2 separate regions of the Homo sapiens genome follow, and region 1 is linked to region 2. A link means that fine-mapping ties the variant in region 2 to the expression of a gene that starts in the linked region. Tissue or cell type: tibial artery. Region 2 holds a variant in brackets; the other region holds the start of a gene. All regions are shown on one strand. Distances are from middle to middle.

Region 1 (2,687 bases), 420 kb before region 2:
AGCGCCTGCACACAGTAAGTGCCCAGCCCTGGTGATGATTTTAAAGACAAGAAAAGGCAATTATAAAAGTTAGTGACCGGCCCAAGGTTTAGATGAAGTAAATGGAACTTGTGTAAGGTAACTTGAAGAACTCTGCTTACTCATGTGAACACTACCCAAGGAAGGTTTAGTACCCCAGTACTGAGGAACTAAAGATGGTGGTGGTAAGGGAGTGGGGAGGGGCATCAGTGTTTGAGTTCAACCACCACACGTTTCTTCATTTTTAAGTTCTGTCTAGCCATTATACACACATTTGTCTGCACTATAACTGGACTTCTGCACTGTTGATAGTCCTAAGTTTCCTTCAAAGCTTGGCATCCGTGTGGCTTATTTGGTAGAGATTTGAACTTTCAAAGGGACGATACCCATCATTGGGGATTTCTCTCAAACCCTGGCGGTTTAAAAACCTACTTGGGCACTGCTGCTCAGCCAGCCCGAGGACCAGGGAGGCAAGCACAGAAATAGAAAGCATTTGTAAGTGTTAGTAGCTACTTTAAAGAGTAACTCTGTTCTGTTAGACCTACTAATAACAAATTAGGAGCTTGCATTTAGCACATCTTTTTTTAAAAAAAAAACACGTTCATTTTTCTCCTATGTTATAGTGTTTTACCTGAGAGGCTGAATATACTAAGACAATGGCCAAATCTAATATAAAAATAGACCTCCAATCCACAACCTGCAGCAACCTGCCCAGAAAACCAGTCAGTTACCTACAATAACCAACCCAGGGAGCCTGCCTGCTCTAAATCAGACTTGCACTCCTCTGCCTGCCTTTTTTCTTCTCATTCGGATGGTCTTCATCTATTCCCACATACCTGGGGTGGGGAGGAAATTAGCAAAAGCAAAACCCGGGTCCTGCACGCAGGCAGCTTAAGTACGGCCCTAGGGCTCGGGTCTTCCCTAGGCAAGAACCTCGAGGGCCGGACACGGGAGTGCAACCCAGGCACGCGCCTTCGGATGGCCAGAGTAAATGGTCGCGAGATTTTGCGGGGTAGCAAGGGGCCGGGTGCCCACGGCGGGAGAAACTACACTACTCTGGAGGCGAGCCTAGCCCTTCATCCCGTCGGGTTTCACAAACGAAGCCAGAGCTTCCTGGAGTGAGGGTGGAGCTTCCTGCCCGCGCCCTCTGCGCATGCGCCCGCCCGGCGCCCGCCCGGCGACCTGGAGTTGATGTCACGTCCGGCGGCGGCGGCAGCGGCAGCGGCAGCGGCGCTGAGTTTTGTCTCCCGGGCCGTCTGGGCGCGCGCGGGTGTCCCAGGTACCCCGCCGCCTCCCTCCTTCCCGCAGGACTCGTCCCTCCTGGCCCTGGGCCCCAACGGTGCCCGCCTGCCCGGCGGTCGGTCAGCGCACAGGGCACGGCTTCCTCTGCTTCTCCCGGACCACTTAGTCTCAACCCGGGTGTGTTTGCACTACTAGAGGTGAAGCATCCATCATAGAGAGAATGGGACCTGGGGTCTTGGACCAGGGTGTTTTTACTTTTCCCATCAGGTGGACGCGCATGGGCAGGAGATATTATTTGCAGCATTTCCTCCTAGAGGACGCCTTTGTCATTGTAGTGCAATCTAAGAATGGGTGTCCTTAGACAACAGGGACCGACCAAATCGTCATGCAGCTGTTTGGATGCTTTAAAAAAATAAATCCCCACACTCATTACGCGTTTTATGCTGCTGACTTTTTTATTTTTAAGACATCTGCTCCCGAAAGCTCAGAGCCCTTTAGCATTTCATTTTCTAAACGAATCCTAATCTTTCCTGTGACTGAATCGGTTCAGAGGATATCTTTTCAATAAGGAAGGAAGCCCTCCCCTGCTCACTGGGGACGTCGCAGGGTTTTTAAACCTAAAGATTTACTCTTTTGTGCACAGACGCTGGAAGCATTTGGGTGAGGCAGTGCAGTGCTTTTTGGGAAATGCATCAGATCTTTTCTGTTCTTGAAACGCCAAATCTAACTTGGTCTTTTTTTGGATGAATTACCGCCAGTATTATGAAGGTTACTGTGAAGGAACTTGAGACCACTGAACTTTTTGAGTTCTTGCGGTAGATTTTAAATCGTTTTTCCGTCTTCAACTCTGACTTTGGGATCACTGTCAATTGGCTACATTCTTTACCCTCTTCTAGTTATAATTTAATGCGATTTATTTGTTGTGGGTTTTGAATTTCGATAGCTACACTTAATAGAATTGTGTTTAAAAGAAAGATAAGTGAGGAACTCGTGGCTTTTTACTTTTATATAACTTAATTTTTCATTTTACAAAATGCCCATTTAAAAAAAAGTAGCTAAGCAAAAGAAAGGAAATTAAAATCATCTAGAATCCTACTATCTAAAGATAACCATTGCTAACATTTTGGAATAGAGTGTTAAGTTTTAAAATACATGAAATTTGTAAAAAACAAAAAATGAAATCATAGTGTATACTGTTTGAGTATAATTTGCTTGACGTATCTTGCCTGGCTTCCATTTCACTTATTTTTTTTCTTTGCGCATTTATAATAGCTACAGAATGTTCTATTGTGCTAGGCACTCATAGGTATAGTGGGAAACCTAGTGCATAAACCTTGTGCCATCTATTTTATCAGCTCAGAGAACTTTTAACTTATATCTTGGTTTTTAGCCAAGATGCATAGGTGAGATAGTTGCAGAACTGAGTT
Region 2 (2,687 bases):
TGGTCCTGCACCCCGTTAGCTCCATGCTTTTCCACCCTGGGTGGTCATTAGAATCCCCTGGAGAAACTTTAAAAATCTATAGCTATCTTGTCCCCATTTAAGCCAGGCTCCATGGGGTTGGGACCAGGCATCATAATTTTTCAAAAGTTCCCCAGGTGATTTTGACGTTCAGTGCAGGGTTGAGAAACATGGAATTAGTTGGTGGGTAGAAGCCTCCCCTACCATCAAGTGGGCTTTCCACTGGACTTTCCTGCTATTTTTATGAAACTAGTTGGAATCCTGGCCCAATAAATAGCACTTATTGCTGAGTGCTCACTGCATGCCAGGGACTTTGCATACCTCATCTCAACAAAATCACTATTGTTCCCTTTATATACAAAAAGAAATTGAGGCTCAAAGGGATTAAGAAGCAGCAGCGATGAGATTGAGATCCACCTCTCTCAGAAGTCAGACCGTGCCCTTTACATGACATATTAGGCTGGTTGGATGGGGTTCTGATTGTGCTAGACTGAGTCCGGGTCAGTGCCTCGGGGTATGTAGCTGGTTCACCCTGCAGGTAAAGAGTCATTTATCCTTCCCCAAGTCAAAGAGGTGTTAGGAAAATGAAGGTGGAAAGGTTTAATGTTTGATGTGATTCTTACGGCAAGTAAACTACTGTAATGAGTAGTTTCTGTTCTTTCTTCACTTTTTTTTTTTTTTTTGAGATGGAGTTTTGCTCTTGCTGCCCAGGCTGGAGTGCAGTGGGAAGATCTCAGCTCACCACAACCTCCGCCTCCCGGGTTCAAGCAATTCTCCTGCCTCAGGCTCCCAAGTAGCTGGGATTACAGGCACCTGCCACCACGCCTGGCTATTTTTTTTGTATTTTTAGTAGAGATGGGGTTTCACCATGTTGGGCAGGCTGGTCTTGAACTCCTGACCTCAGAGCCTCCTATATTGCTGGGGTTACAGGCATGAGCCACTGCACCCGGCCGTAATGAGTAGTTTCTATAAAAGAGACTAGTTTAAAGACAAAAGGAAATGCTAAAAGAAAGCCCTAACTATTGCCTTTATATATAGTTTATTTGTTAATTCATATGTATGTTTTGGTTATTTAATAAACATAAATGAAAATGTCTTCTCTGTTCCAGATGCTGCATGATATGCTGGAGATATGTAAAAGAATAGCTCAGTAATCCCCTAAATCTTAAAATGAATGCAGGCATTGTGTCAAAATAATAATAAGCAAACTCTCCACTAAAAATTATTTTTAATAGTTAAAAACAGGAATTGACTTTAAAAGTTTTAAGGCTCTCACCTCCTTAATAAGATGCTAAATTATAAAACATATGGCATTATCAGGAAATAAGAAGAAACAAAAAAATCATAGATATCCCAGTTGAATTCCTGACCCATTTAGAATGGTTTAGGAATTGTTAGTAGGCTGAAATCTCTCTTAATTTACCACAGACTTTATACATATTTTAAAACTCAGCTCGTGGAAAATATAACTATGGCCAATGATTTTAAGCTA[T/C]TTTTATATGATCTCAAGGGCATAGACATATTTATTACCTTTAATAAAGTAATTAAAGTCCCATTTTACTCATGCTTCTTAATGATTATGTACTGAGTTATTAGGGAGAAGGCTATAAACCTTTCTAAGGGCAAAGGCCAGGAGGGCAGAATAAACCAGTGGGGAGCCTTGGAGAATTGCACCCAATGTGCTCATTCTTAAATAGGAAAGAGGAAACAACCCATGTCAAGAAGGATGGAGTCCAGTCCTGTTGCCCTTGTAAGGAAGTGAAATTTGTTTAGCTTCTTCTTTAACCTTGCAGTGAGGCAACCTTTGGCTATGCTGACCACGTGCATGATACATTTGGACTAATGCTATTTTAGGTTGGTATTAGTGATGGGAACATTCACTTCTTGGCTCCTACTTGAAGACATGTCTCCCTTTAATAATATCCACCCTTTACCACACAGTTGCTTTGTGCCTTATACTGTTCTAAGTGCTTTCCTTATCCTTATTCATTTGATCCTCTCAGGAACCCTTGACGGCATTCCCACCTTATAAATAAGGAAACTGAGGAACACAGTGGTTAAGGAAGGTGGCCAAGTCTCCCAGGTAATGCATGGCAGAGCTGGGAGCCGAAAGCAGGTGTCTGGCTGCAGGACCCTCGCTCTTCACCACCACACTTTGTCACCTCTCATGAAGACGTTTGCTTCTCTTCTTCCTTCACCTCAAATTCGTAAGTTGAAAAAGCCACCAGGGATGTTTGGAACTCATGGAGGAAGGCAGTCACAAGGGGCCGGTTGGGTCTCGACAAATGGTGTCATTGCCCTAAGTAAGCTGAGTGTCTTCTGGGGACCGGGTTGCTGGGGTCTTAAGTGGCCTGTTGAGATGGACAGTGTGGGTTTGTTCAGCTTTATCAAAATATGGATAGTTCATCCTGCTTTGAGAGAGTAGTGAGCGAATCTGCACATTCTCCAGGCCAGTTATATGTTCTTCATATATTGATGAATGTATTGATTCATTCAATCATCATCCAGTTGATTGATGGAGCAATCGAACATTCAAGAGGAAGAAAATGAATGCTGGGAAAAGAAAATCCAGGTTATGCCCCTCAGCCTAGGAAAGATGTGGAGAAAAGTGATACCACAGAGATGAACTGGGACACTGTTTGTTGATGGAGCTGACACTATGTTTACCC

Evidence for each region. PIP is the estimated chance that this variant, and not a neighbour inherited with it, causes the effect.
Region 1: TBC1D7 starts here. The variant in region 2 is fine-mapped to the expression of TBC1D7 in tibial artery (GTEx, PIP above 0.99).

Annotation. Positions count from the first base shown.
Region 1 is chr6:13,327,066-13,329,752 of GRCh38, reverse strand. TBC1D7 (TBC1 domain family member 7) reads left to right here and starts at 1,216. Exons shown (of 8, transcript NM_016495.6): 1 at 1,216-1,457. TBC1D7-LOC100130357 (TBC1D7-LOC100130357 readthrough) reads left to right here and starts at 1,216. Exons shown (of 9, transcript NM_001318809.2): 1 at 1,216-1,297. It overlaps LOC124901261 (a long non-coding RNA gene), which reads right to left and starts at 1,138. Exons shown (of 2, transcript XR_007059457.1): 1 at 855-1,138; 2 at 1-28. RefSeq lists an enhancer at 871-1,377 and a silencer at 1,011-1,400.
Region 2 is chr6:12,902,549-12,905,235 of GRCh38, reverse strand. The region is part of intron 4 of PHACTR1 (phosphatase and actin regulator 1); the gene reads right to left. Among named protein-coding and RNA genes, the nearest start is that of PHACTR1, 190 kb to the right of the region's middle. The variant T/C (reference allele first, on the strand shown) is at 1,511.